Homo sapiens: one gene and its partners. The protein of the gene in region 1 interacts with the protein of each later gene in a pairwise test. Each region holds a gene or a part of one and is shown in the gene's direction. Other genes may lie near its edges. The genes, in order: FUT2, BDNF, ZDHHC17 and DLST.

What was found.
Region 2: the proteins of FUT2 (region 1) and BDNF interact in binary tests that used the Homo sapiens proteins (3 or more experiments, as listed by UniProt).
Region 3: the proteins of FUT2 (region 1) and ZDHHC17 interact in a two-hybrid assay, tested with the Homo sapiens proteins (one large-scale study listed by BioGRID and IntAct).
Region 4: the proteins of FUT2 (region 1) and DLST interact in binary tests that used the Homo sapiens proteins (3 or more experiments, as listed by UniProt).

What each region holds. Positions count from the first base shown.
Region 1 is NC_000019.10:48,697,333-48,705,083, forward strand, and holds part of FUT2 (galactoside alpha-(1,2)-fucosyltransferase 2), read left to right. Parts: intron 1-5,117; exon of another isoform or gene 5,118-5,622; 5' UTR 5,623-5,624; coding exon 5,625-6,656; 3' UTR 6,657-7,751.
Region 2 is NC_000011.10:27,651,671-27,659,421, reverse strand, and holds the end of BDNF (neurotrophic factor BDNF precursor form isoform a preproprotein), read left to right. Parts: exon of another isoform or gene 1-836; coding exon of another isoform or gene 837-857; coding exon 858-1,601; 3' UTR 1,602-4,529; downstream 4,530-7,751. UniProt on the Homo sapiens protein: Important signaling molecule that activates signaling cascades downstream of NTRK2. During development, promotes the survival and differentiation of selected neuronal populations of the peripheral and central nervous systems.
Region 3 is NC_000012.12:76,841,598-76,849,348, forward strand, and holds part of ZDHHC17 (palmitoyltransferase ZDHHC17), read left to right. Parts: intron 1-384; coding exon 385-509; intron 510-1,321; coding exon 1,322-1,384; intron 1,385-4,111; coding exon 4,112-4,205; intron 4,206-4,998; coding exon 4,999-5,082; intron 5,083-6,635; coding exon 6,636-6,793; intron 6,794-7,751. UniProt on the Homo sapiens protein: Palmitoyltransferase that catalyzes the addition of palmitate onto various protein substrates and is involved in a variety of cellular processes.
Region 4 is NC_000014.9:74,894,479-74,902,229, forward strand, and holds part of DLST (dihydrolipoyllysine-residue succinyltransferase component of 2-oxoglutarate dehydrogenase complex, mitochondrial isoform 1 precursor), read left to right. Parts: intron 1-3,890; coding exon 3,891-4,021; intron 4,022-5,444; coding exon 5,445-5,518; intron 5,519-5,810; coding exon 5,811-5,894; intron 5,895-6,587; coding exon 6,588-6,755; intron 6,756-7,717; coding exon 7,718-7,751. UniProt on the Homo sapiens protein: Dihydrolipoamide succinyltransferase (E2) component of the 2-oxoglutarate dehydrogenase complex. The 2-oxoglutarate dehydrogenase complex catalyzes the overall conversion of 2-oxoglutarate to succinyl-CoA and CO(2).

The sequences.
Region 1 (7,751 bases):
AAAACTCCGTCTCAAAAAAAAAAAAAAAAAAAAAAATCTCAGTAAGATAGACCAGGTGTGGTGTCTCATGCCTGTAATCCCAGCACTTTGGGAGGCTGAGGAAGGAGAACAGAGGACCTCCTGAGGCCAGGAGTTTGAGATCAGTGTGGGCCACATAGCAAGACCCCCTCCCCACCATCCCTACAAAAAAAGCAATTCAAAAAAAATAATGCCTTCAGGCAGAATGGGAGTGGTGCTTGGTTCAAGCCTGACATAAGTGTGAGTTTGGGGCACAAATTCTGCTCTGAATACCAGGGACAGCCCATGTAATACAGCATTTCCCTTTGTGCCCACGCAGCCCTAAGGGAGGTGTGGTTTGTTGTTGTTGTTGTATCTTTTTGAGATGGATTTTTGCTCTTGTTGCCCAGGCTGGCATGCAATGGTACAATCTCGGCTCACTGCAACCTCCGCCTCCCAGGTTCAAGCGATTCTCCTTCCTCAGCCTCCCAAGTAGCTGAGATTACAGTCATGAGCCACCATGCCTGGCTAATTTTTTGTATTTAGTAGAAATGGGGTTTCACCATATTAGTCAGGCTGGTCTCGAACTCCTGACCTCAGGTGATCCACCCGCCTCAGCCTACCAAAGTGCTGGGATTACAGGCATGAGCCACTGCACTGGCTCTTTTTTTTTTTTTTTTTTTTTTTTGAGACGGAGTCTCACTGTGTTGTGCAGGCTGGAGTGCAATGGTGTGATCTCAGCTCACTGAAACCTCTGGGGAGGTGTTGTTTTTATCCCTCCCCACAACCCCCTGTTGATGGACAGACAAGGACAATGAAACACAGAGAGGTAAAAGCCCTGGGTTAAAGTCACACAGCACATAAAAGGTTCCTGATCATGCCGTGCAGGGCATCTCGCCAAACCTCAAAAATTCACAATCTCATAGCGCAGCTTGCTCTGTGAGGCCTCCCCACCTCTTCCTTCTCTCCTTCCAGGCTCCAGTCAAGGTCAGTGCCCAGCTTCCTGCTCTGGGCCACTCAGCAGCCACCTTCCTCCTTCCTGGGTAAGGAGGTAGGGAGCTACCAAGGAGGCAGGGACATCCGTGTAGAACATTCTGCTTTTCTTTTTTCTTTTTTTTTAAGATAGAGCCTGACTCTGTCGCCCAGGCTGGAGTGCAGCTGTAGTGTAATGGCACAATCGCAGCTCACCACAACCTCCATCTCCCAGGTTCAAGTGGTTCTCCTGCCTCAGCCTCCTGAGTAGCTGTGATTACAGGCATGTGCCACCACGCCTGGCTAATTTTTGTATTTTTAGTAGCGACGGGGTTTCTCCATGTTGGTCAGGCTGCTTTCAAACTCCTGACCTCAGGTGATCCGCCCCCGCTTGGCCTCCCAAAGTGCTGGAATTACAGGCGTGAGCCACTGCGCCTGGCCTAATTTTCTCTAAAATAGAGACAAGTTCTCACTATGTGGTCCAGGCTGATCTCGAACTCCTGAACTCAAGCAATCCTCCCAGCTCAGCCTCCCAAAGTGCTAGCATTACATGTGTGAGCCATCATGCCTGGTCCCTGTCTGTTTCATTCTCCCTGTCTCTCTAGTCCTGCCTCTCTCTGTGTCTTCTGGTCTTTTTCTCTATTTGTCTCTTCCTCTGTCCCTTTTATCATCTCTGTCCCTTCCCTCCCTCCCTCCCTCCCTTCCTTCCTTCCTTCCTTCCATAGGTGAGAAAAAGTAGCATCTTTTCCTCACCTATCACAAAGTTTGCAGCTGGGGCACCTACAGTAAAAGGTTAACAGACACAAGCATAACAAATGTATTTAAGGCAAGTGTTGACATGGGAGCCTTCAGAAATGAAGGCCTAAAGAAACAGGGAAACCTGGGTGGGTTTTTTGTTTTGTTTTGTTTTTAGATGGAGTTTTACTCTGTCGCCCAGGCTGGAGTGCAGTGGCGCGATCTTAGCTTACTGACTGCAATCTCTGCCTTCCATGATCAAGTGATTCTCCTGCCTCAACCTCCCCAGTAGCTGGGATTACAGGTGCGCGCCACCATGCCCAGCTAATTTTTGTATTTTTAGTAGAGAAGGGGTTTCACTATGTTGGCCAGACTGGTCTCGAACTGCTGACCTCAGGTGATCCACCCACTTTGGCTTCTGGAAGTTCTGGCATTACAGGCGTGAGCCACTGTGCCCGGCTACCTCCCGTTCTATGATCTATGGTTTAAACGCTACATTTGACCACTATCAATACTCCCAGTATCAAAACTGGGAAACCTGGGTTCTTCACCCAGAGCCTAAAACGAACAGCATTCTTTGCCTTGTGGGTGACAATAGCAAACATTTACCGCCTGTGTATATGTGCCAGACACTGTTTTAATCCTCAGAGAGGTGATGTCACTTGCCCAAAATCACACAGCTCGTGACTGTGAGTCTGAAATTGGCCAGAGCTTGTGCACCTAGCCACTGGTGGTGATGTGTCTTTGAGTCATCGAGTCCAGCATTCTGTGTTGGACTTAGTGAAAGGATATACTTTTGTAGTGATGAGAAAGGAGCTTTATCTAGAATTTGTGAGGCCAGGCATGGTGGCTCACGCCTGTAATCCCAGCACTTTGGGAGGCTGAGGTGGGTGGATCACTTGAGGTCAGGAGTTTGAGACCAGCCTGGTCAACATGGTAAAACCCCGTCCGACTAAAAATACAAAAATTAGCCAGGTGTGGTGGTGCACACCTGTAATCCCAGCTACTCAGGAGGCTGAGGCAAGAGAATTGCTTGAACCCAGGAGGCGGAGGTTGCAGTAAGCCAAGATGGCGCCACTGCACTCCAGCCTGGGTGACAGAGCAAGACTCCATCTCAAAAAAAAAAAAAAAAAAAAAAGAAAAGGAAAAGAAGTGAACTGGTTCAAAGACCATAATCATACATATCACACAAGACTGCAAGCGGACCAGGGTCAGTTAATTTAGCGGCTCCACAAAGTCATCAGTCACCTGAGCTCCATCCATCTTCACATGCTGTGCTACCATTTATTTTATTTTATTTTTTTTTTTGAGACGGAGTCTCGCTCTGTCTCCCAGGCTGGAGTGCAGTGGCGCGATCTCGGCTCACCGCAAGTTGCGCCTCCCAGGTTCATGCCATTCTCCTGCCTCAACCTCCTGAGTAGCTGGGACTATAGGCGCCCACCACCACACCCGGCTAATTTTTTTATATATATTTTTAGTAGAGACGGGGTTTCACCGTGTTAGCCAGGATGGTCTCGATCTCCTGACCTCATGATCCGCCCGCCTTGGCCTCCCAAAGTGCTGGGATTACAGGCGTGAGCCACCGCGCCCAGCCAGCTACCATTTCTTAGCTGTATCATCTCACGGTCCCAAAAGGGCTGCTACACATCCAGCCATCACATGCAGATAATTTCTTTCAAAAACAGCAGAAAGAGGCTCGTTCTTGTCTTGGTCCCTTTTGAAGAATGAATGAAACCTTCCTAAGCCTTCCAGCAACTCCCCCCACAACTCCGATGGGTAGGAATTGTCACATAACCATGTGGCCCGATAGGAGGCAAAAGAAATGAGACTTCTGGGATTAGTTTAGCCTCAGATTCTGCAGCTGAGAAGTTGATCAGCCACCTCTGAAGGACAAGCAGCTTGCAGAAAATTAGGGTGGTGTTACCAAGGAGAAAAGGGGAAATGGCTTTAGAGTAGACAACAGGGATGCCCTGAGGGGTTGTGTAGGTTGTTCACTGCACGAAGTCCCCTGGTCAAGAAGGTAAGCGGGGTTTAAACAGACCCACAGTCTACTCATCAAACCAGGTGTCCTTGGCATTGTGTCCACCCAGAGAGCTCACTATTTTCTTTTCTTTTCTTTTCTTTTTTTGAAATGGAGTCTTGCTGTGTCCCCCAGGCTGGAGTGCAGTGGCATGATCTTGGCTCACTGCAGCCTCCGCCTCCCGGGTTCAAGCAATTCTCCTGCCTCAGCCTCCCGAGTTCAAGCAATTCTCCTGCCTCAGCCTCCCGAGTAGCTGGGATTACGGGCGTCCGCCACCACACCTGGCTAATTTTTGTATTTTTAGTAGAGACAGGGCCTTGTCATGTTGGCCAGGTTGGTCTCCAGCTCCTGACCTCAGCTAATCTGCCCACCTCGGCCTCCCAAAGTGCTGGGATTACAGGCGTGAGCCACCGCGCCCGGCCACAACTCATCTTTTAGAGCCAGCCTACACTTGTCATAGGCCATGGCCGATGAATGGGAAGTCCACGGTGGAGCTGGGTGTTCCTCTCAAGTTCAACTGGCTGCGGCCAGGAGGGCAGGCAGGCCAGGTGGACAATTTCCCTTCAAAGTGGATACAGGCAGGACATGCAAAGATGAATATCTCTGGCACTGGACTCTGGCAAGTAGGAAAATAAAAACAAAAGATGAACATCTTGGGCCGGGCGCGGTGGCTCACATCTGTAATCCCAGCACTTTGCGAGGCTGAGGCAGAAAGATCACGAGGTCAGGAGTTCGAGACTAGCCTGACCAACATGGTGAAACCCCGTCTCTACTAAAAATACAAAAGTTAGCCAGGCGTGGTGGCGGGCGCCTGTAATCCCAGCTACTCAGGAGGCTGAGACAGGAGTATAGCTTGAACCTGGGAGGCAGAGGTTGCAGTGAGCAGAGATCGTGCCATTGCACTCCAGCCTGGGTGACAGAGATTCCATTTCAAAAAAAAAGAACATCTCTACAAACTGGATCACCAGTAAATAATAGCTACATATACTTGTACTCACCATATGTGGACACCCACATATGTACACTCAGTCGATAAACACCCACATTTAAACATACCATGTGGGCCAGGTGCAGTGGCTCACGCCTATAATCTGAGCACTTTGGGAGGCCAAGGTGGGAAGATCACTTGGGCCTAGGAGTTTGAGACCAGCCTGACCAACATACTGAGACCTTATCTCTACAAAAGAGAATTTGTTTTTAGTTAGCTGGGCGTGGTGATGTGCACCTGTAGTCCCAACTACTCGGGAGGCTAAGGCAGGAGGATTGCTTGAGCCTAGGAGGTCAAGGCTACAGTGAGCCACGTTCTCACCACTGCACTCCAGCCCAGGTGGCAGAGCAAGATCCTGTCTCAAAAAATAAATAAAAAATTAATAAACAAAAAATGCATACAATGTATAGATACACAAAGTGTATATATATACATATATATGTATACACATTCACATATACACACATGCTGTGTTCACAATCACCTAGATGACATATGTATGTGTATACATACTTACACATATACCCTTACATGTACACGATATATCTCTACCCATACACTACCATGTACACATGTCCATTTGTACACAGCTGTATATGTACACACACAATTTTGCACACACCTGTATATGTATACAATGTATGGATCCCCATATCCACATTACACACAATGTGTACGCATCTACCTGTGTACACACACCCACCTATGAACACAATGTAGACACATCTGTATAAACACACTTGAGATACATGCCTGTGCACATAGGCAAGTATGTGCCAAGTATTTACACACCTGAAGTAGAAGCACACACACACCCACACTATGCCTGCACACCACCGCATGGCCACGTTCACCAGCGCCCCGGGCCTCCATCTCCCAGCTAACGTGTCCCGTTTTCCTCCCCTGACAGCCATGCTGGTCGTTCAGATGCCTTTCTCCTTTCCCATGGCCCACTTCATCCTCTTTGTCTTTACGGTTTCCACTATATTTCACGTTCAGCAGCGGCTAGCGAAGATTCAAGCCATGTGGGAGTTACCGGTGCAGATACCAGTGCTAGCCTCAACATCAAAGGCACTGGGACCCAGCCAGCTCAGGGGGATGTGGACGATCAATGCAATAGGCCGCCTGGGGAACCAGATGGGCGAGTACGCCACACTGTACGCCCTGGCCAAGATGAACGGGCGGCCCGCCTTCATCCCGGCCCAGATGCACAGCACCCTGGCCCCCATCTTCAGAATCACCCTGCCGGTGCTGCACAGCGCCACGGCCAGCAGGATCCCCTGGCAGAACTACCACCTGAACGACTGGATGGAGGAGGAATACCGCCACATCCCGGGGGAGTACGTCCGCTTCACCGGCTACCCCTGCTCCTGGACCTTCTACCACCACCTCCGCCAGGAGATCCTCCAGGAGTTCACCCTGCACGACCACGTGCGGGAGGAGGCCCAGAAGTTCCTGCGGGGCCTGCAGGTGAACGGGAGCCGGCCGGGCACCTTTGTAGGGGTCCATGTTCGCCGAGGGGACTATGTCCATGTCATGCCAAAAGTGTGGAAGGGGGTGGTGGCCGACCGGCGATACCTACAGCAGGCCCTGGACTGGTTCCGAGCTCGCTACAGCTCCCTCATCTTCGTGGTCACCAGTAATGGCATGGCCTGGTGTCGGGAGAACATTGACACCTCCCACGGTGATGTGGTGTTTGCTGGCGATGGCATTGAGGGCTCACCTGCCAAAGATTTTGCTCTACTCACACAGTGTAACCACACCATCATGACCATTGGGACGTTCGGGATCTGGGCCGCATACCTCACGGGCGGAGACACCATCTACCTGGCCAATTACACCCTCCCCGACTCCCCTTTCCTCAAAATCTTTAAGCCAGAGGCAGCCTTCCTGCCGGAGTGGACAGGGATTGCCGCAGACCTGTCCCCCTTACTCAAGCACTAATGCTGGCCCATTCTTTGAGACCTTTTCTCCTTCTCTGCCTCCCTCAAGATGAGTGCCCGGGCATGAGAAGCACATGGTTCCATGAGCAGGACCCATCTCTCTTCTGTGAAGATGCGTTGGGCTGCAAGTAACAGAAATCTCAGTGAACAGTGGCCTGGCGTGGTGGCTCATGCCTGTAATGCTCGCACTTTGTGAGGCCAGGGTGGGTGGATCACTTGAGGTCAGGAGTTCAAGACTAGCCTGGCCAACATGGTGAAACCCCATCTCGACTAAAAATACAAAAATTAGCCAGGCGTGGTGGTGCACACCTGTAATCCCAGCTACTCGGGAGGCTGAGGCAAGAGAATCACTTGAACCCAGGAGGCGGAGGTTGCAGTGAGCCAAGATGGTGCCGCTGCACTCCAGTCTGGGTGACACAGCAAGACTCCATCTCAAAAAAAAAAAAAAAAAAAAGAAAAGAAAAAGAAATGAATGGGTTCAAAGACCATAATCATGCATATCACATAAGACCAGAAGTGGCCCAGGTCCAGGGTCAGTTAATTTAGCGGCTCCACAAAGTCATCAGTCACCTGAGCTCCATCCATCTTCACATGCTGTGCTACCATTTCTTAGCTGTATCATCCCATGGTCCCAAAAGGGCTGCTACACATCCAGCCATCACATGCAGATAATTCCTTTCAAAAACAGCAGAAAGAGGCTCGTTCTTGTCTTGGTCCCTTTTGAAGAATGAATGAAACCTTCCTAAGCCTTCCAGCAATTTCCCCCCAACTCCGATGGGTAGGAATTGTCACATACCCATGTGACCCGATAGGAGGCAAAAGAAATGAGACTTCTGGGATTAGTTTAGCCTCAGATTCTGCAGCTGAGAAGTTGATCAGCCACCTCTGAAGGACATGCAGCTTGCAGAAAATTAGGGTGGTGTTACCAAGGTGAAAAGGGGAAATGGCTTTAGAGTAGACAACAGAGATGCCCTGAGGGGTTGTGTAGGTTGTTCACTGCAGGAAGTCCCCTGGTTAAGAAGGCAAGTGGGGTTTAAACAGACCCACAGTCTACTCATCAAACCAGGTGTCCTTGGCATTGTGTCCACCCAGAGAG
Region 2 (7,751 bases), on another chromosome or scaffold:
TTAGCCCCAGGCATAGACACATCATTAAAATGAACATGTCAAAAAATGATTTCTGTTTAGAAATAAGCAAAACATTTTCAGTTGTGACCACCCAGGTGTAGAATAAAGAACAGTGGAATTGGGAGCCCTGAGTTCTAACATAAACTTTCTTCATGACATAAGGCAAGTCTTCTATGGCCTTTGGTTTCCTTACCTGTAAAACAGGATGGCTCAATGAAATTATCTTTCTTCTTTGCTATAATAGAGTATCTCTGTGGGAAGAGGAAAAAAAAAGTCAATTTAAAGGCTCCTTATAGTTCCCCAACTGCTGTTTTATTGTGCTATTCATGCCTAGACATCACATAGCTAGAAAGGCCCATCAGACCCCTCAGGCCACTGCTGTTCCTGTCACACATTCCTGCAAAGGACCATGTTGCTAACTTGAAAAAAATTACTATTAATTACACTTGCAGTTGTTGCTTAGTAACATTTATGATTTTGTGTTTCTCGTGACAGCATGAGCAGAGATCATTAAAAATTAAACTTACAAAGCTGCTAAAGTGGGAAGAAGGAGAACTTGAAGCCACAATTTTTGCACTTGCTTAGAAGCCATCTAATCTCAGGTTTATATGCTAGATCTTGGGGGAAACACTGCATGTCTCTGGTTTATATTAAACCACATACAGCACACTACTGACACTGATTTGTGTCTGGTGCAGCTGGAGTTTATCACCAAGACATAAAAAAACCTTGACCCTGCAGAATGGCCTGGAATTACAATCAGATGGGCCACATGGCATCCCGGTGAAAGAAAGCCCTAACCAGTTTTCTGTCTTGTTTCTGCTTTCTCCCTACAGTTCCACCAGGTGAGAAGAGTGATGACCATCCTTTTCCTTACTATGGTTATTTCATACTTTGGTTGCATGAAGGCTGCCCCCATGAAAGAAGCAAACATCCGAGGACAAGGTGGCTTGGCCTACCCAGGTGTGCGGACCCATGGGACTCTGGAGAGCGTGAATGGGCCCAAGGCAGGTTCAAGAGGCTTGACATCATTGGCTGACACTTTCGAACACGTGATAGAAGAGCTGTTGGATGAGGACCAGAAAGTTCGGCCCAATGAAGAAAACAATAAGGACGCAGACTTGTACACGTCCAGGGTGATGCTCAGTAGTCAAGTGCCTTTGGAGCCTCCTCTTCTCTTTCTGCTGGAGGAATACAAAAATTACCTAGATGCTGCAAACATGTCCATGAGGGTCCGGCGCCACTCTGACCCTGCCCGCCGAGGGGAGCTGAGCGTGTGTGACAGTATTAGTGAGTGGGTAACGGCGGCAGACAAAAAGACTGCAGTGGACATGTCGGGCGGGACGGTCACAGTCCTTGAAAAGGTCCCTGTATCAAAAGGCCAACTGAAGCAATACTTCTACGAGACCAAGTGCAATCCCATGGGTTACACAAAAGAAGGCTGCAGGGGCATAGACAAAAGGCATTGGAACTCCCAGTGCCGAACTACCCAGTCGTACGTGCGGGCCCTTACCATGGATAGCAAAAAGAGAATTGGCTGGCGATTCATAAGGATAGACACTTCTTGTGTATGTACATTGACCATTAAAAGGGGAAGATAGTGGATTTATGTTGTATAGATTAGATTATATTGAGACAAAAATTATCTATTTGTATATATACATAACAGGGTAAATTATTCAGTTAAGAAAAAAATAATTTTATGAACTGCATGTATAAATGAAGTTTATACAGTACAGTGGTTCTACAATCTATTTATTGGACATGTCCATGACCAGAAGGGAAACAGTCATTTGCGCACAACTTAAAAAGTCTGCATTACATTCCTTGATAATGTTGTGGTTTGTTGCCGTTGCCAAGAACTGAAAACATAAAAAGTTAAAAAAAATAATAAATTGCATGCTGCTTTAATTGTGAATTGATAATAAACTGTCCTCTTTCAGAAAACAGAAAAAAAACACACACACACACAACAAAAATTTGAACCAAAACATTCCGTTTACATTTTAGACAGTAAGTATCTTCGTTCTTGTTAGTACTATATCTGTTTTACTGCTTTTAACTTCTGATAGCGTTGGAATTAAAACAATGTCAAGGTGCTGTTGTCATTGCTTTACTGGCTTAGGGGATGGGGGATGGGGGGTATATTTTTGTTTGTTTTGTGTTTTTTTTTCGTTTGTTTGTTTTGTTTTTTAGTTCCCACAGGGAGTAGAGATGGGGAAAGAATTCCTACAATATATATTCTGGCTGATAAAAGATACATTTGTATGTTGTGAAGATGTTTGCAATATCGATCAGATGACTAGAAAGTGAATAAAAATTAAGGCAACTGAACAAAAAAATGCTCACACTCCACATCCCGTGATGCACCTCCCAGGCCCCGCTCATTCTTTGGGCGTTGGTCAGAGTAAGCTGCTTTTGACGGAAGGACCTATGTTTGCTCAGAACACATTCTTTCCCCCCCTCCCCCTCTGGTCTCCTCTTTGTTTTGTTTTAAGGAAGAAAAATCAGTTGCGCGTTCTGAAATATTTTACCACTGCTGTGAACAAGTGAACACATTGTGTCACATCATGACACTCGTATAAGCATGGAGAACAGTGATTTTTTTTTAGAACAGAAAACAACAAAAAATAACCCCAAAATGAAGATTATTTTTTATGAGGAGTGAACATTTGGGTAAATCATGGCTAAGCTTAAAAAAAACTCATGGTGAGGCTTAACAATGTCTTGTAAGCAAAAGGTAGAGCCCTGTATCAACCCAGAAACACCTAGATCAGAACAGGAATCCACATTGCCAGTGACATGAGACTGAACAGCCAAATGGAGGCTATGTGGAGTTGGCATTGCATTTACCGGCAGTGCGGGAGGAATTTCTGAGTGGCCATCCCAAGGTCTAGGTGGAGGTGGGGCATGGTATTTGAGACATTCCAAAACGAAGGCCTCTGAAGGACCCTTCAGAGGTGGCTCTGGAATGACATGTGTCAAGCTGCTTGGACCTCGTGCTTTAAGTGCCTACATTATCTAACTGTGCTCAAGAGGTTCTCGACTGGAGGACCACACTCAAGCCGACTTATGCCCACCATCCCACCTCTGGATAATTTTGCATAAAATTGGATTAGCCTGGAGCAGGTTGGGAGCCAAATGTGGCATTTGTGATCATGAGATTGATGCAATGAGATAGAAGATGTTTGCTACCTGAACACTTATTGCTTTGAAACTAGACTTGAGGAAACCAGGGTTTATCTTTTGAGAACTTTTGGTAAGGGAAAAGGGAACAGGAAAAGAAACCCCAAACTCAGGCCGAATGATCAAGGGGACCCATAGGAAATCTTGTCCAGAGACAAGACTTCGGGAAGGTGTCTGGACATTCAGAACACCAAGACTTGAAGGTGCCTTGCTCAATGGAAGAGGCCAGGACAGAGCTGACAAAATTTTGCTCCCCAGTGAAGGCCACAGCAACCTTCTGCCCATCCTGTCTGTTCATGGAGAGGGTCCCTGCCTCACCTCTGCCATTTTGGGTTAGGAGAAGTCAAGTTGGGAGCCTGAAATAGTGGTTCTTGGAAAAATGGATCCCCAGTGAAAACTAGAGCTCTAAGCCCATTCAGCCCATTTCACACCTGAAAATGTTAGTGATCACCACTTGGACCAGCATCCTTAAGTATCAGAAAGCCCCAAGCAATTGCTGCATCTTAGTAGGGTGAGGGATAAGCAAAAGAGGATGTTCACCATAACCCAGGAATGAAGATACCATCAGCAAAGAATTTCAATTTGTTCAGTCTTTCATTTAGAGCTAGTCTTTCACAGTACCATCTGAATACCTCTTTGAAAGAAGGAAGACTTTACGTAGTGTAGATTTGTTTTGTGTTGTTTGAAAATATTATCTTTGTAATTATTTTTAATATGTAAGGAATGCTTGGAATATCTGCTGTATGTCAACTTTATGCAGCTTCCTTTTGAGGGACAAATTTAAAACAAACAACCCCCCATCACAAACTTAAAGGATTGCAAGGGCCAGATCTGTTAAGTGGTTTCATAGGAGACACATCCAGCAATTGTGTGGTCAGTGGCTCTTTTACCCAATAAGATACATCACAGTCACATGCTTGATGGTTTATGTTGACCTAAGATTTATTTTGTTAAAATCTCTCTCTGTTGTGTTCGTTCTTGTTCTGTTTTGTTTTGTTTTTTAAAGTCTTGCTGTGGTCTCTTTGTGGCAGAAGTGTTTCATGCATGGCAGCAGGCCTGTTGCTTTTTTATGGCGATTCCCATTGAAAATGTAAGTAAATGTCTGTGGCCTTGTTCTCTCTATGGTAAAGATATTATTCACCATGTAAAACAAAAAACAATATTTATTGTATTTTAGTATATTTATATAATTATGTTATTGAAAAAAATTGGCATTAAAACTTAACCGCATCAGAAGCCTATTGTAAATACAAGTTCTATTTAAGTGTACTAATTAACATATAATATATGTTTTAAATATAGAATTTTTAATGTTTTTAAATATATTTTCAAAGTACATAAAATCTGGGGGTTCTGGGTTTTTTTCTCTTTACTGTAAAACAAACATGAAAACGTGTTTTATTATAAATACGTGTGTTCCTTGCTTTAAGACTAATCTGACTAGTTTTAGTAATTAAACAGCCCTCCAGAGAGGATACTTATTTGAAAGCCTGGGAGGCCAATCCTGCAGTCTGTGAGCTTCTGAGAAGTTGTAGGATTGGATCTGTCTTCCATGGTGGAAGATGGGAGTGTCATTTTCTCGGACACTTGAAAGTTTTACCCCTTTGAAGTGATATACTTTCATCAGATACCAAACCATGTATCCTAGCAACATCAGGATCCACGAATCACGGCTGGCTGGCTGGCTCTATTTGACTATAAAATAACTGTTAAAAAAAATCAAAGTAGGTTTACTTAGGGATAATGAGAATAAATTGGCCCAAATTTAGAAAGTCAAGTACTGGGGAAAAAAGTAAAAAAAGAAATTCAATATTTGGAGACAGGTCACATATCCTCGGTTTGGAAGTGGTGCCATTTGCAGTATGTATTTGTATCCATAGCACTGATTTAATTTTTGTACGTGGAGCACACAGATTTTATATCATAGTACCCACAATCTAACAGATTGCTAGGATTTCTAAAAGGATTTGCCTCCGTGATGGCTGCCAAGCCGCTGGGTAATTTAGTTAAAGTGTTTAAAGTTATCACTAAATCTTAGGGAAATAAATGGAAGGATTTTAAATCAGAGAAGGGGCCATTAAGGAAAAAAAGCATCTGTTCTTACTCTTCAGCCTCCCCATTTGAACACTGACAACCCATCCCATAACGTGGTGAACTATATCTGTGCAATGTATCATTTCTATTTCTAAACATACACACATGGTTTCCTCTTGTATTGTCTTATAAATAAGGATCAGGAAAGTCATAACAAACATTGACTTGTGTTGTGTATATGGAAAAACAGATCGAATGAGATGAATTACTCTATCCTAATCTGTCCAGTGAACTTGAAAAGTACTCTAAGAGAAGCCCTTGACTGCCAGTCATGACAGCCCAGCCATGGACTTAGAACTTTGATAAACTTCAGGCTTGACCAATTTTCATAGTCAGAGGACTAAAATATTTTTTAAATGGTTGAGTAAAAAAAGTAAAAATTAAACATGACATCCAAATTACTTGAAGTTAAACGAGTTTGGTAAACATGACTGAAAGTTTTCATTAGAAGATGAGGTTGGAGAAAAAAACAAAATAGAGACATCTACTAAATTATCCTACTTGGAGTTAATAGGAGTAACCAATGTGTACTGCATTCATTGAGTAAGCAGTTAAACTTGTTTAATTACTAAGATGCCAGGAAATAACTCAGATCATTGCTTTGATCTGTTGTTTTTCACCATACTGATAAGCCTCTGTGGTCATTAGCTGTGTCTATGAAATCTTTTTATGAGCTGTACTAATTCAGTGAATAATAAGACAGTTCGAAATGAGAATCTGAACTAAGTCTTAGAATGGGTCAGTGTTAAATTGTTCCTCATTCATTTAAGTGACTTCTAGATCTGGATAAAATGTCAAACACTTTTTGAACTGCAACAAATGGCTTCAGGCATTGCCTCAGTTCAGCCAGCACTCCCAATAGTGTTAAGGTTTAAGGTTATTGTAAAACATACTTGTCTCCATCATGTTCTAACATCAAGCCTGGTCTACAAGTTAAAGTAGAAATGGCTGCATATTTTGATAAGCCATTGTTAAATAAAGACTGTTAATTGGGATAAGAAACAATATACGTGTACATAAATTTAGGAAGATGAAGCATTTAGCTTGCAAAAAGCCATTCACAGATTTGATCCAACCTCAGAATGTTGACCAGCAAAATTAGTATTTTATGGAACATAGGCCATCCTTTTAGCTGTGGGTTTTTAAACTGTGGTTTTAAAGGTTGGTTGGCTGCTTGGTTTGGTGACAAGCGGGGGTAATGGTTGGGAATCTGACTTTTGTTGGTTACATTGAACTAACTGGTGGTTGGTGAACTCCCCACCTAATAGCTAAACTTAGCAACTAGAGTAGGTGAAGCCACTCCAAACCAGCCCATGTTTATGGACATTCCTTCTAATAAACACACTGCCTGCATGTCTATCCCCAATCTTGTGAGTATGATCATCCATTCTCTCAATTCTGGCCACCATTTGAATTATTTGTAGGGAAAAAAAAGCAAACTCCTTGCTTTTTAATATGTGATTATTTGCAGTAAATTACTTGAAGACTATGTTTAAATATTAACAGAAAAAGCACTGTGATCTTACACATTATCATAATTGAGAAGACCCATTTCTGTGGCACTCTGTAGGATTTCCATAGGCCTTTACCTCACCCCCACACCCTAATTATTTACAAGGCACAGACCACCAGATTAGGAGCTCCCCAGCCTGGCATTTGCTTTTCTAACAACAATCCTGTGTGCTTGGTAATGTCAGTAGCATGGAATTGTAAAAAGCAGGCCTTCCAATTAAACCTCACCACACAAACAATAAACAAGACCTTTGCATTTAAGTGTGAGCTGCTATTTTATATCTGGAAAAACAAAAGTCCTTTCCTTTAGAAAAATAAGCTTATCTGTCCTGAAAAAAGCCTCACACATAATGTTGTAGTTAATGACAGGACTTGTCTCAAGCCTGTAAATGACCAAAAAGTGTTAGTTGAAATCCTGAGCTTGAGGTGTATGTTCTACATTTAGAAAGGACATAAAGATGCTTCTGCAGCTCTGCACTTTGGTACTGTACTCTATTTCAAATGGTTCCTTAGAAACCAGGGGCTGGTCTGCATAGAATGGCTGAACCCAGGGGAAATATTTTTGTCTGGCTTAAGTGCTCACAATTTGAAAAAATCCATGTCAAGTACTGCAGTACACATTTAAATTTATTTAGTGAAGCTGCATTCTCCATTGAGCCCTAACATTTAAAAAATAGTTGCTCAACTGGGATTTGGTGCATATCAGGAAGGAAAGAGGAAAAAGACATAAAATAGAAACCTTACCCAGCAGAGACCTGCTCCAACAGATACCAAGCAGTGTTTACTTGGAGATAACAGTACCCATACTCTCCTCCAGTTAGACTCATGGAATGATCTCAAAGTGTGTTCTGCAACCAGCATCTGCATCTCTGGGAACTTTTTACAAATGCAGACTCTCAGTTCCCATCCTAGACTTACTAAATAAGAAGCTCTGGGGGTAGAGTACAACAGTCTGAGTT
Region 3 (7,751 bases), on another chromosome or scaffold:
ATAGTTAAAAGCAATCTTTTAAATATACGAGTATGATATCTGTAATATTTGGTAGATGCCTAAAGATTGCAGTGCATATACATAAAGTATATGTTAATAACTTTGAACATGAGAAATCTCTTCATTTTTGTCAAAAAATTAGTCATTTAAAAATTTTCATTGACTTTTTAATATATTCACTAACTTTTAAAGTGTCAGATAAGTCTGCATGATTTAAAATTTATAAAGAAGTCACATTATTTTTACATGTAGTTATAAACATAATGCAGAACAGTTTGTATTTTTTTGACTGGTAGGTGTTTTGTAAAATTTTATAGATTATAAGTTTATATATAATAGTAATTCATTTATCATTGCTTCTTTAGATTCCTTAACCTTAGGCACATCTCAACTTTTTATTTATCCATCTTCCATTCCTTGCCAATAGTGTTGCACTTTTCTACAATTTTGGAAAATCTTGGAAATCAGATCCAGGGATTATTAAAGCAACAGAAGAGCAAAAGAAAAAGGTAGCAAAATACCAACTAAGTCACTTGTATTTAACTGCCAGATTATCAGTATTTACAGCAGACATTAGAGGACAGAGGAATTAACTATCGTTTAGAATGTAAAGAAGTTTTAAGCTAAATTGAGATTATGTATCTTTTATTTGGTGCTCATCCTTGGTGCTCTTGTGATGCCTGTCCATAACACTTCCATGACATTTTATAATTTCGTGTTTCTCTCCCTTACAAGACTGCTGTGATTGCTTTGAGGGGTGAATACGGTGTCTTAAACATCTCTGTAAATCTCCAGGAAATAATTTGCATTCAGTAGATGTTTGCTGAATGACTATGTAAACTAGAAGGTTAATAAATTGGTTGATAGTGCAGGTACACCATCCCAGTAGCTAAAATATTTGTATATACCATCCAGGGCATCCCTTTCTTATAATGCAGGTAATTAGGAAACCAATATTATAATCTAACAATGTTGTGTATTTAGAGAACTGGACTAGAAGCATTTTAGATTATTTTAAGAGCTGTTTTATTTAGTCTCTAAAAACAGGACAAATTTTGATAAGTTATTCCAGTCCACAATTGACTAAGACAATGGCAGATTCTTATGGTCTAATCCCCTTTTTTCTGGGCAGCATAGAGATTGCTACCCTGTATTCTTCTTGCAATGAAATAGCAGTAAATAAAAGATTTTATTTCTCTTTTTGAACTCAAAACATCAGTAAATTAAAGATGAAAATCATGTTTATTGATTCATAGTGGTGGCAAAAGAGTTGGTGAGCATTGTTCAGTTTTGAATTAAATATTATTTTTTTAATTCACAGACAATAGTTGAACTTGCAGAGACAGGAAGTCTGGACCTCAGTATATTCTGCAGTACCTGTTTGGTAGTATTTTCTTCTTTGTTCTTCCCTCCCTTCTCTTCCTCCTGACAGTGGCATAGCATAGCGGGTATGGGGTGTGGGGAAAAGGAATAATTATTTTCAATGAACACATTCCCTGCTTCTTGGTATAAGAGGAAAGATGGTTAAAGGATGTCTGCTTCCCAAGGCGCTTATTCCTCGATGGTAGGCCTTGACTGTACTTTTGATTCGGAGGTGCCGTTTATTTGTATTCATTCTCTTTCTCTTTTCTCGCTTAAAATGTTAATAAATTAAAAACTAAGTAATAAAGTATTTCAGATCAAAGATTTATAATGATTCCCTAATAGATTGTTTTCTTTACTACATTTTAAGAAAATTTATACTTGTATTTAAAAGCCACATGGGAAAATCCATTAGATAACTGTTAAGACAACATGGCCTCTAAACAAGTTCAATTTGAGTAGGTGGTTTTTTTTGTTTTGTTTTGTATCAGAATGTTTATGTAACTTTGAACACTGTTTTATCATAGATTTTTAAAGTGGTCATCCTCATCCAGGTCATAGGTAAAGATATATATGAAATTACTAGTATTTATTAATAGAGTCAGGTATAGCACTATTGAGATTGTTTATTATTATAGACATTAATTTTCTGTAGGATAATACTCTTATGTTTAAATTATTTTTCACTTAGTTTTTATAATTAGTATTTGTGAAAAATATATATACTGCCACAGTGCTTAAATTATGTTTTTCTACATGGAAATTGAAATATTCCAAAGTCATACATAAAACTAAATGCTCTTTTATACTTATACACTGCAAGTGAGCTCATGTCTTAGCATCTGATTAATAATAAAGTCATTGACTTCATTTAGGATTATGGAATGAAGTTTTGAAACAGTTCTAATTCTGAAAATTCTTTATTACACTTAATATTCTTTGACCAGTTATGATTTTGAATATTCAAAATATATACAGCTTCATGTTTGGTAGCAACTTTAGGATACCGACCAGATTCTTTTATATATTCCGGCATTCTGAAAACAGTTTTTGTTTCTGTGCTTTACAATGGGTAATTTACAAAATTGATATTCTTTTTCTTAATATTTAGAATGTTTTAATACACTGCTGTTCTGTGGAAATATACTGTTCCACAAAGTATGCAGTGCTGATGTACTTGCCATATGGCAAACAAATTATATAGTCATTCAATACAGATAGCAGTTTCATTGTCAAATACATATTTGATGGCAAGAATAAGACTAATTTTGTCATCATAGCATAAATGTTTTATTATATATTATTTATAAGCCACATACTTCTTGTTGTAAAGAAGATTTCCTATTATAAAATCTTGCAGATCAGCAGAGGTAGTTGTCATTATATGGGTATGCTTCACTTTGGTAAGTAGACAAGTCCCTAAGGCTTGTAGATCAGAGCTTTCTTAAAAACGAATTACTTTGTTGATTGCACCCCTGCACTCCAGCCTGGGCCACAGAGTGAAACCCTGTCTCAAAAAAAGAAAAAAGAAAGGATTACTTTGTAAGTGATCCAAGGAACCTTGAGACCAAGTCACACCTTAACCAGTTAGTCTGTTTTTCAGATTTTTGACAGTGTTGCAGCTGAGGGTTGGAAGTGGGGATAGAAGTTGTTTGAATATCCTGCTGCCTTCTCCTAAGTAGATTTAGTCTAACAACTGTGGTGAAGAATAACTTACCCTTTTCTTTATTCCACAGATAATTTTGGTAGATGTAAGAACTGTGTATTCACTGTGCCTTTTCCTTGGTACCTCAAAATAGTGTGTAACTTTATGCAAACTAATGGAGAAATGGCAGTGCTTTTGTTGAAACGCTGAAGTATATTTATAAATTTTTTTCTGGCAAGAGTTAATAACTGCAGCTCTTTTATCATATGTCTAGCATTAGGACTGCCAGCCCTTTGAAGATCACCAATGAGTTCTTGTATTCACTTGGCTGATTTAGAGTAATGTAGGTTTTAAAAACCATTTCAAAATGCTTGAAAAACAGACATCATAAGCATGGATTCTTTATTGCCTGTCAATAGCTGAATAATGAATTATATGGGGTTTTTTTTTTTGCAAGAAATAGTGACTTCTTAAGCATGTTCTGCATTCTTAAATATGGTCATTTCAGCAGGAGAAATGCTGTACCTTAATCTGAGATCTCAGAAGGCACTTTACTGAAGAGAAATAGATGTGTACATATGGGTTTTTGCTGGATTTGTTAATTTGGGGAAGACAAATATTTTATTGATGATTTTGAATTTTAAGAGCTTTTTAAATTCACTTTTAGCCTGACCTTCCTAGTAAGGAATAATTTTATTTTATTGAAAAACACCAATATCATGACCATTAATCATAATGGAACATCATTTAGAAGACTGGAGATTGATATGTTTTTATTACTCAGAAATTTGAGGGATGTGAATTAAACATAGCATCATTCATCAAATCAAATTGGTAATTCTTAGCTTTTGTAAATTGATGGTTCAGTTCCATTCTTAAGAGCATATTTTCTAGAGTAGCCTCATTCTTTTATTCTTTGTTTTTGCAGTTGAAATTTTATTAAACAATAGTGACTTTTGGTTTCATTCATTTGGAAACCTTGATATAATCTTGTTTAAAAAATATAGTTTTATTTTTTTATAATTATATTTTGAGAAAATAAATAGTCAGCTTTTCTCTCTTAGTATAATGCCTTTCATAATCCTTTAACATGCCTATTAACAGATACGAAAACCGGTGAGGTCCAAACATTGTGGTGTGTGCAACCGCTGTATAGCAAAATTTGATCATCATTGCCCATGGGTGGGTAACTGTGTAGGTAAGTTGTATTAGTAATTTCTTCTGTATCATTCATTTAAGTTACTTTAGGTAATGAATAAAGTATAATATTAAAGTAGGCAATAGAAAGTTTATTACTCCACGCTTCATTTTCTCAGTTATCTTCTGGTTGACAACACAGCAACTCAGTTGAGAGAGGGAGGGAAAAAAATTACAAAATTAGTGGCTGATACCTTTTCTCTGTCAGTTCTATCTGGTGCCTACTCTTGATAAGGAGGCAAAATTTTTTTTTTCTAGTTAAACTAGAGAGATGAAGGCGGTAATATTTGAAATGATATTATGTGCAGAGGTAGAGAGGAATGACAGATAAGAACAGTACACACATTAGTGTTCAAGAATGGTATAGTCTAAGGAGAGAAACTACATGGTTTGAGACATGCCCCGGAGATTTTATGAGGTGACAGGAAACATTACAAAGATTGTTTACCTCTGTTGAAGAGAAACCTTTGGATTGTAAAGTTTATAAAAGTAAAGATAAAATAGGGCTATTTTAAACCTCACAAAGAATAGGATTAGAGGTCAGAATTGTGATTTATTTAGTTCTTTGGGACTTGAACACCATTGTCATCATTATATCTTTGTGTGTAATTGCAAGCATTCTTATTTAAGATTTTTATTAAAACATTTTTCCTGAAAACCACTTTATAAAATAATGAATGTATGTGTGATTATCATCAAAACTGTAGCACACCTTTCATGGCATACCCCTCAAAGGTGCATTACCCGTTGTTTTTTTCTTAGCTGAAAAACCTTGCTTCTGTGTCGTTCTTCAGGTGCAGGCAACCATAGATATTTTATGGGCTACCTATTCTTCTTGCTTTTTATGATCTGCTGGATGATTTATGGTTGTATATCTTGTGAGTACAATTAGTTTTCGGTCTTTTTAAAACAAATTTCTGCATACTTAGATTATACTTACCACACTAACAAATTACTATAATGACAAAGGTCGTTTAACTAAAATTATGGTTTGGACACCTTATGAAGCACAAAAGGGAAAAAAGATACAGCTCTATCAATTATGTCCAATATACAGTGTAAGCAAACAGTTAGCAGTTAACCACCTTTTAATACTTGTGTCCTCTGAAAAACATATTGGTTTAATAGGCTTTGAGAAGCTTCTGGGTGAAATACATCAACATTTTCCACATCATGTGCTTGCTTTACTATAGTAGCTTATAGATTAAGTGATTGTCTTAGTTCTGTTTCTTACCAAGCAGTTGGGAAAATATACTTAAAATTAAATTTGCAGAGAATTTGAAATATTTTGAAAAGTAAGGTATAATTATTGCCTATTAGAGAATATTAGTAAATATCAGAAGTTACCTTTTTAAGAATAAGTTGTTATTCCATCATGTGGGTTTTATACCTTAAAGGAAATGATAGATTTTTGTTGCATTGAGAATGCAGTCTGGAAAGAGTTTAAGTGGATACGTCACTTACGATGCCTCAGGGCTTGGTGGTGCTTGGCATAAAGATGTATTAGATCCTCGTTTAAATACAAGTCTTGGAAGGATGATTTTCTAGTCTTCCTGCCCCACAGATAGTAAAAATAATCAGTGTTATTGCCCTAATGAACCAAAGGAGGTTACCACCTCAGTTAAAGATTAATAGGAAGATTTGGTCAAAGAACTTGACCTAATTTCTGGCCCAGCACACCTGAGGAGAATACTTTCTTGCCAACAACAGCAGTATTTTATAGCAACTCTCCTACAGCAGGAGATTTTGTATTAGGAAAGGCCTACCTTGGCTGGGCATGGTGGCTCATTGCCTATAATCCCAAAACTTTGGGAGGCAGAGGCAGGTGGGCCAGTTGAGGCCAGGAGTTTGAGACCAGCCTGGGCAACGTAGGAAGAGAGACCCCATCTCTACAAAAAATACAAAAATTAGCCCGGTGTGGTAGCGCATGCCTGTAGTCCCAGCTACTCAGGTGGCTGAGGTGGGAGGATTGCTTGGGTCCAGGAGGTCGAGGTTGCAGTGAGCCTTGATTGAGCCACTGCACTCCAGCCTGGGTGACAGAGCGAGACCTTGTCTGGAAAAAAAAGCTCATGTCACCATCCTATTATGTTATATGCCCTCTTTCAAAAAAATCTCTTTCATATATCCTCTCATCTTTGTGTAAAGAAAATGTTTTTCTAAGTATTATGTGATGCAATACCAATCAAATAAAATTGTTAATTCTGAAGATACAGTGATTTTTTTTTAAGATTGGCTGCTCCTTTTCCATTTCTGTGTTTTTTCACTGAGATATAATAGGGTTATTTAAGAGTATAAAGACATTTGCTATTGAATGTCATCAGTTAAATCTAGACTGTTTGACTATGTTTTCTAAATGGTGCCAGCACAAATGCCTATATGAGGTGCTTGGATGATTATTGAGTAAATACGAGTACTTCTGTTCTGGCTTTAGACTGGGGACTCCACTGTGAGACCACTTACACCAAGGATGGATTTTGGACATACATTACTCAGATTGCCACGTGTTCACCTTGGATGTTTTGGATGTTCCTGAACAGTGTTTTCCACTTCATGTGGGTGGCTGTATTACTCATGTGTCAGATGTACCAGGTATGTGCAAAGGCATTCTTTTTAGTGCACTAAGTGAAAACTCTTCCATCCTTGCATAAAAGATAATAATATATTCTCTTCCTAACCACTCCTGCTCTTCAAATATTCATTTTATTTTTCAATTTAGTTTTCCTTTCTACCTCACTCTTTTGCCCCTTCCTCTTCTCATATTGTGAACTTTTGAATTTTAGTACTTATCTCAACAGAAATTTTAATCTGTTATTCCTGACTTAAATACATCCAGTTGAGTATGTGTGAGCTCAGATTGATGATGACATTAATTTTGTGTTTTTAATGGTATTTTTATTCACAAATACTAATATTTATTCAAAAGCCTTTTTTTAATTTTTAAAAGCTCATTCTCAGAGAGGCTGATAGGGAGGTTGTCTGTGCAGGAATAGCGCCTGTCCATGCACAGTGTCAAGTAACCTGTCTTTAAATATTTTCCACATTTAACTGGCTACTTTTCACAGTCAAATGATACCACGTAAACTAGTTCTGATGATCTCCTGATGGAAAACCAAAAACAGACTTCATTGTTTTTATCTTTATCCTAGTTTTCTTCAAATTAATTTTTTTATATTAAGTATTTAGAAAGAATAATGGTTTGTGCAGCCTGGCATGGTGGCTCACACCTGTAATCCCAGCACTTGGAAGCCGAGGTGGGCGGATCACTTGAGCCCAGGAGTTTGAGATCAGCCTGGGCAACATGGTTAAACCCTATCTCTAAAAAAAAAAAAAAAAAAAAAAACCCAACAAAAAAAAGAAAATTAGCCGGGCATGGTGCATGCGCCTGTAATCCCAGCTGCTGGTGGGGTGGGGGTTTTGGGGTGGGGGGAGGTGGCGGGGGTGGAATCACTTGAGCCCACCCAAGAGGGAGCTGAGAATTCGCCATTGCATTTTAGCCTGGGTGACAGGGCAAGGTCCTGTCTCAAAAAAAAAAAAAAAAAACAAGAAT
Region 4 (7,751 bases), on another chromosome or scaffold:
TATCTAGTGCTGATTCTAAAACTAACTTGTCAGGGAAGAGGTATTTGTTTATTGTTTTTTGTTTGTTTGTTTTTGTTTTTGTTTTTTGAGATGGAGTCTCGCTGTCTCCCAGGCTGGAGTGCAGTGGCATGATCTCGGCTCACTGCAAGCTCCGCCTCCCGGGTTCACGCCATTCTCCTGCCTCAGCCTCCAGAGTAGCTGGGAATACAGGCGCCCCCCACCACGCCTGGCTAATTTTTTGTATTTTTTTAGTGGAGACGGGGTTTCACCGTGTTAGCCAGGATGGTCTCGATCTCCTGACCTCGTGATCTGCCCTTCTCGGCCTCCCAAAGTGCTGGGATTACAGGCGTGAGCCACCGCGCCTGGCCTGTTTATTGTTAACTTTCACAGAGTGAGCCGCTGGCTTCTTCTCTAATTGGCTTTCCTAATACTATGCCTGCCTCCTCCATGACCTTAACCTTAGCCTTGGCTAGGTGTAGTGGCTCACACCTGTAATCCTGGCACTTTGGGAGGCCGAGGCAGGCGGATTGCTTGAGTCCAGGAGTTCAAGACCAGCTGGGTAACAAGGCGAAACCCCACCTCTACAAAAAATACAAAAATTAGCCAGGTGTGGTGGTGCACATCTGTAGCCCCAGCTACTTGGGGGGCTGAGATGGGAGGATTGTTTGACCCCGTCACTTACATATTTTCCTAAGTGATTCAGAATCGAGTGGATGAAAAGGCAAAGATAGGCTGGGCTTGTCTTTCATTTTACCCAGCTCTGACAGTGAAATGGAAAACAAGTTGTGTTTTTAAATAACCTTAGAATGTTAACCAAAGGTACTAATTCACTAGGTATGCCCATTTCTGTAGTGAGCTAATTGTTGACTTACCTGTTTTCTTCAAGATTTCAATGTGTTCAAGTATCAGCACTGTCAGGAAGAGAAATTTGACAAACGTGTTTTGAGTGCGTACTGTATACAGAGTACTGTACTGTGGAATTCAGTGGGGATAGACGCTGGGCACCATGGCTCGTGCCTATAATCCCAGAGCTTTGGGAGGGTGAGGAAGGAGGATCGCTTGAGCTTAGGAGTTGGAAACCAGCCTGGGCAACATAGCAAGACTGTCTCTACATAAAATTTAAAAATTAGCCAAGTGAGGGCTGGGTGCGGTGGCTTGCGCTTGTAATCGCAACACTTTGGGAGGCTGAGGTGGGTGGATCACATGAGGCCAGGAGTTCGAGACCAGCCTGGCCAACGTGGTGAAACTCTGCCTCTACTAAAAATACAAAAATTACCCAGGCATGGTGGCGTATGCCTGTAATCCCAGCTACTCGGAAGGCTGAGGCACAAGAATTGCTTGAACCCAGGAGGAGGTTGCAGTGGCTGATATCGCGCCACTGCACTCCAGCCTGGGCAACAGAGCGAGATTGTGTCTCAAAAAAAAAATTATGTATGGTGGCATGGACCTATAGTCTCAGCTACTTGGGAGGCTCAAGTGATCTTCCTGCCTCAGCCTCCCAAATGGCTGGGACCACTACAGGCATGTGCCACCAGGCTTGGCCAATTTTTTTAGTTTTTGTAGAGACAAGGTCTCGCTGTGTTGCCTAGGCTGGTCTCCTGAACGTCTAGGGTCAAGCCATCCTCCTGCTTTGGTCTCCCACTGGGATTACAGGCATGAGCCACCATTCCTGGCCAAAAAAGAATTTTTAAACAGGTCTTCAAGAGTGACTAGCATTTTGTCAGCCTTGTGGAGAAAGGTCATTCCAGATGATGTTAACAGTGTAGACCATGAGATGGGAAAGTAGAAGACACATTTGAGAAATTGTCAAAAATCATTTCTGTTGTGAGGATTTTGTATAGCAAAGAATGGTAAAGAAGGTTGGATCCTTATTTCAGAATGTTTTGAATGCCAGGGTAGGAGTTTATATTTAATTCAGGAAGCAAGTCAAGTCTCAGGTCATCTCTTTCTTTCTTTTTGTCCTGAGGGTTTAGTCTGCGAATCTACTTTTCATTAGAGAAATTTGCTTTTCTTTGGAAAGGGTTTGAAAAATAGGGAGAAGGGAGTGTTTTCTTGATAGTGCGCTGTGGCATTGTTCAGAGTAGGGCTCTGTGACCTGTTTTACTAGATGTCATCCATTCTGTTGGGAAACTTTCCGAAGAGACTGGATGACATTCAAGCCAAAGATTTCTCTCTTGTTCATAGGATGTAGGGGAAGGACCTTGACTAATGAATCACAAAGGCTGCAGCTTATGTTTCAGTGCATTAGGGCCAAATTGTACACAAATTGAATTGGACTTTGAAATTCTACCCAGTTTCTTAAGACAAAACATGTAAATATTTGTGGCCCTGAAAGATGCAGTTGGCCCAACAGCTTTGATTGGAAAGGAAGCGTAATAGCTGGATCTCCTTTCAGCAGCTAATCAAGGTGTCACTTAACAATGGCCTGCGGTCTTGCTGCAGCCTAATTTGGTTTAGATCGAGTGCCCTTTGGGTCTTGTGCTGATCAGCTAACCCATAAGGGACCTTTCTGAGACCTTCTCCCTTCCTCTATTGTCCCAGCCTTTGCCTCCAAGGGCAGAGCTCTGAAATAGAAGCTACTTAATGACCAGACAATAACATTTGGGCAGGTTTGAGAGCAGAGATGTTTATCACATCTCTTTCCCTCTTCTGCAGCTCTTGTGTCTTGGGAACCAGTAATGTCTTTAGGGTGGTAATCCTAGCACTAAATAAGGTTAGAATCAGGAAAACAAGCATTTTAAACCCAATCAGTCCCCCTTGGAAAAACTTCCTTTTTCAAAAACAAAAGATCTGAAGGGGGCTGTTAAAATTGTACCACATCTTACCTTTCATGCTAATGTCGAATTAGGCCATTAGAGGGAGAAAGGGAGAACTGAGCATTTGGCCCTGAGATAAAGTTAAATTCAATTTTCATCGTAGAACTGCATTACTGCATTCCGATAAATACTGAGGTTTATGCAGCAAAGTGATGGGAAAGCCATTTCTCACTAACTCTGCAATGTGTCATTGAAAAAAAACCAGTCCCAAAAGAATAAAGGCTGCTCATGTTGTAAAGGCTTTTCAGAAGGCTTGCTGCTTAATCTGAAGGGAACCAGCCTAAACCACAAGTGGCCACTTTTCTAAATACCAAGGAAATCACAGCCATTAAACTAATCTTAGGGCAAGAACTATGTCTTAATTAGCTTTGTATCTTGGTACCTGGCCCTGACCCTCACATGTAGTAAGGTGTTAGTACCTGTTTGGAAGAATAAGTGGATGGAACTGCCAACCCTGGAAAGATGAAGAACGGATATGACTTTCCGTGGGCCTGAAAGAACACTGGGTTATACCCTTCCCTGCAGAGTCATGACTGCTTTTTCCCGCATGGAGCCTCATGTACCCATGAGCTGTTTATTTTAGTCTCCACTAATCAAGAGATAGGAGGAATATCACACGGGAGTTATACTCAGATTTGGTGGGGTTTTTTTTTTTTTTTTGTATTCTAACAAGAAATAAAAAGAATATTGCTTATTTTGTAGATTTTGTTTATACTTTAAAAAATTTTTTTTCAGGATGGATAGCTCAGTTATTCAGGGCAAGGATGTTGGTGTGCTGTGTGATCTCTTGTTCATATGATGTGTCACTGAAATCTGTGACTTCTAGACCATGAAGGAGCCCTGTAAAGAGATCAACCCACCTTAAAGACAGATTGGGCCTGATTCCTGTAGATTTCTTTGTAAAAGAACAGAGTTACTGTGTTAACCTCAGGTAGACTATTTCAAAACTTGAACTAAGGTAATGGTCCAGAGTGAGGGAAAAGCTCTCACCTAATTGTGTATATGGATTGAGAAACCTGTGTGAAAGTCAAAATGCAGGCTTTGTGGTCAGTTTGTTTTGTAATATTTTCACAGTAACATCCAGGAGATGAGGGCTCGGCACAAAGAGGCTTTTTTGAAGAAACATAACCTCAAACTAGGCTTCATGTCGGCATTTGTGAAGGCCTCAGCCTTTGCCTTGCAGGAACAGCCTGTTGTAAATGCAGGTGAGTTGCTTGTGGCTGGAATTGGAGAGGTCCTGGGAGGTAGGTGTATGAGCACAGACCTGCTCCCACATGCAGAGGATCAACAGACCAAGGCTTTTTATTTGCTACCTATAGAAATATCAGTATCTTCCCCAGGGATTTCTTGGTTCACCTTCCTGAAGCAGCATCATGATTACTTTCTACCCGCCAGCTGGGCAGAACAGTTTCTCTTCCCAGTGTACAGCTCGGCAGCTGCTCAGGCAGCAGGCAGTTCTGGGATAGCCCAGCTCTCCAGGCTGTCTCCTGTCAAGGTGGAAGCACGTGTTCTGGCTTCCTCCCCTCCCCCAGCTCCACAGGCCCTGTTACCTTGGGGCCTGACTTCCACAGTTGGTGTAGGCTCCTGGCTGACCTTTGATCTTAGGTCGATGGGCCTCACTGGGAGCTTCGGCTTGGCCTCTCATGGACCTGGTGCTTATTTTCTTTCCTTTTTACTTACCTACGTCATTGTAGTGTTGACCTAACAAGCACTTTGTTTTCCTGTTGACACACTTCTCTGTTCCTTGGGAGATTGGAGAGGGGTCAGTGCTACTTTTGCCATCCTCAGCAGTGTCAGGGGCCCTAAAGGTCTAGAAGTAGAAGCCCTAGTCCCTCCTGTTGAGTGGTGCTCTAGGGAGGTAGAAGGCCATCTTTGTTTTGCCCAAATGTATACCTCTTCTTTTTCCCATTCTTCTCATGCCTCCCTGACTGGCTCTCATCTTTTTCAGTGGCCCCCTTCTGCTTGCCCACACATGTAGGCGGCTCTCAAAAGTTCTCGTGGCCTCTTTTTCACATTACATGCTTCCTCTGGATGTCTTATCTAACAATACAACATGGACTTTCTGCGGAAATGATTCCCAAGCCTTTATTTTCCCATTAGTTGCTAGGTGTACATTTTCAGATGCTGGTTTGCCATCTCTTGAGGTAGCATATTTCAAAGCCAGATCACCCCGCTTACTCTTGGATCTCCCCTCTTCCTCTTGTTGAGAGTTGGAAGCAGAGAATGGGTAGTATCTCTATATCCCTTTTCCTTTGCTAATTTGCCCTTTTTTGGAACATTTGTTAACCCTAGTCATTCTCTGCTAAAGGAGGGCTTGACTAGAGCTACTTAACGAGAGTTTAGTGCATACCTATCCTATGGAAGCCAGTGTGTTGAGCCCTTCTTAGGGCTGCCAAAGAAATGGATGCTCCTATGCCCAGGCTCAGTCAGGGACTTGGGAGATACTATACTTGGGATGGGAGTAAGTGGAATGCCAGCTGCCATGCATAATGCAGTGGTGTTCATGGTGGTTGGTCAGCCCACACTGTATCAAGCTCTGCAGATTTTTACTCTGTTAATGCACATATTACCTCATTAGTCTTGGCCTTCCTGGGGAGTTGTATGTAACATGTATTTTCTCTCTCATAGTGATTGACGACACAACCAAAGAGGTGGTGTATAGGGATTATATTGACATCAGTGTTGCAGTGGCCACCCCACGGGTATGTTGGGGCAGGAGGTGGGGAATGTTGGTCTTAGACCCTCACCTTATCTGTGTGAAGGAGATCACACAAGAGAAATCATTTCTTTAATTCTGTATTTTTAGAAGGGAGTTAGTAAAAGTAACCTTTTTTTTCTTTTAAACCATGCCGCATTCTTTTAACACTTTCTGTTAATCACACTGAGTAATGAAGGTATTCTAGGGAGGGCATACCATGGGTTGAATCAAGGGAGTTGTTAACTATAAAAGGTACTATTAATTTGCAACTGAAAACAGCTTTTCACCCCCTTCAGGGTCTGGTGGTTCCAGTCATCAGGAATGTGGAAGCTATGAATTTTGCAGATATTGAACGGACCATCACTGAACTGGGAGAGAAGGTAAAGTAGAAAGATGTATACAAGCTGCTAAGCAGGCGAGGGAAGAGAGCCTTCAGAAGGCTGGGCTCACTAGCAAGCAGTGCTCATGGAAAGTCAAGTGCATAGCCCCTGAGAAAAGCAGTTGCCCATGAGAGCTAAGTATTTTATATATCTGGTGGAGTTTACCATGCTCTGGTAACTGAAATCTCATCAGATGAGACCTGCTAGAAAAGATCATCTTTGAAGTCTTCAACTGTATGAAATTGTGCCTTTTCTCTGGTGGAGCACTGGTCATAGACACCTTAGCCGAACAACTGTCACACGGAAGCTAGCGCTTGTGCCATCGATCTCGATACAAGCTTTCTGGACTTCCTTTGCTTTTTTGTTTTTAGAGGCAGGGTCTCGCTGTGTTGCCCAGGCTGGAGTAGAGTGGTAGAGTCATAGCTTACTGCAGCCTTGCACTCCTGGGCTCAAGCGATTCTCCTGCCTCAGCCTCCCAAGTAGCTGGGACTACAGGTGTGCACCACCATGCCTGGCTAATTCTTAAGTTTTTTATACAGATGGGGGTCTCACTATGTTGCCCAGGTTGGCCTTGAACTCCTGGCCTCAAGCAGTCCTCCTGCCTCGGCCTCCCAAAGCGCTGGGATTATGGACTGACTTTAGGTGAAGGAAACTGGGTTGGCTTGATATTTCAATTATGAAATCTGTTTTTAGGCCCGAAAGAATGAACTTGCCATTGAAGATATGGATGGCGGTACCTTCACCATTAGCAATGGAGGCGTTTTTGGCTCGCTCTTTGGAACACCCATTATCAACCCCCCTCAGTCTGCCATCCTGGGGATGCATGGCATCTTTGACAGGCCAGTGGCTATAGGAGGCAAGGTAGGAACCGTCACTTCTAAGGTCCTAGTGGCTAGGTCTCGATGAAAGGGAAATCCAACTAAATGCTAATTGTAAAACATTAACTATAATTTCAGGCCTAAGTTCCATTTCTTAGTTTCTAATAGCTAAGGCACTGATTATCAAATTGTGGTCTGGATCAGCATCATCTGGGACCTTATTAGAAATGCATATTCTTAGACCCCATCCCAGACTTAAAGAAGAAGTGCAGATGATCCTGATGCATATTCAAGTTTGAGAACCACTGAGCTGAGGAGGCTTGTTTGCTTCTATGGAGTGGGGGATATAGTTGGAAACGTGGTCCCTTGCCCCTGGGAAACAGATGACAATTATGCATGTCAGTCTGTGAGCTGCCAAGTTGTATGATAAAGCTTGTAAATTTCCCGGGAGTTCAGAGAATTAAGTATTAAAAGGGGCTTGAGCTGGCCCTTAGAAGATACGTTGGTATCAAAAAAGCTTTCTGGGAACTCCTGTGTTTAGAATCCTTTTGGGTTACTGACTCCTGTGTGAAACCACAGTCTGTAGATCTTCCTGGAAAATGCCCATACACCCAGCTACACATACAATTCCAGAATTTGTAGACCCTGGCTTAATTTTTTTTTTTTTTTTTAAATTCTAACCCCAGAGAGAAGCAAGTACAGGCAGCCAGAACTGAAGGGAAAACTTTCCTTGTAGGCAGCAGATGCGTTAGAGGGCAGAGTATGTTTTTAAAAAATAAAAGGCAGTTGTGAGAAGACAGTTTTCTTGGCAAACTTTGTTTCTGAGTGGGGAAGCTTTGCACTGAGGGTAAGTCCTGGTCTTTGAAATACTGTAAATATGCAGAGGCAACATCAATAGGAAAGGCTCTGGAATTAGGAACTTTCTTATGGGCTGTGCTAAATCTCCTTCAGCGAGGCTGGCTGTGGCTTGCTGGAGACAAACCTATTTACCTTTCCTCTCTGTAGGTAGAGGTGCGGCCCATGATGTACGTGGCACTGA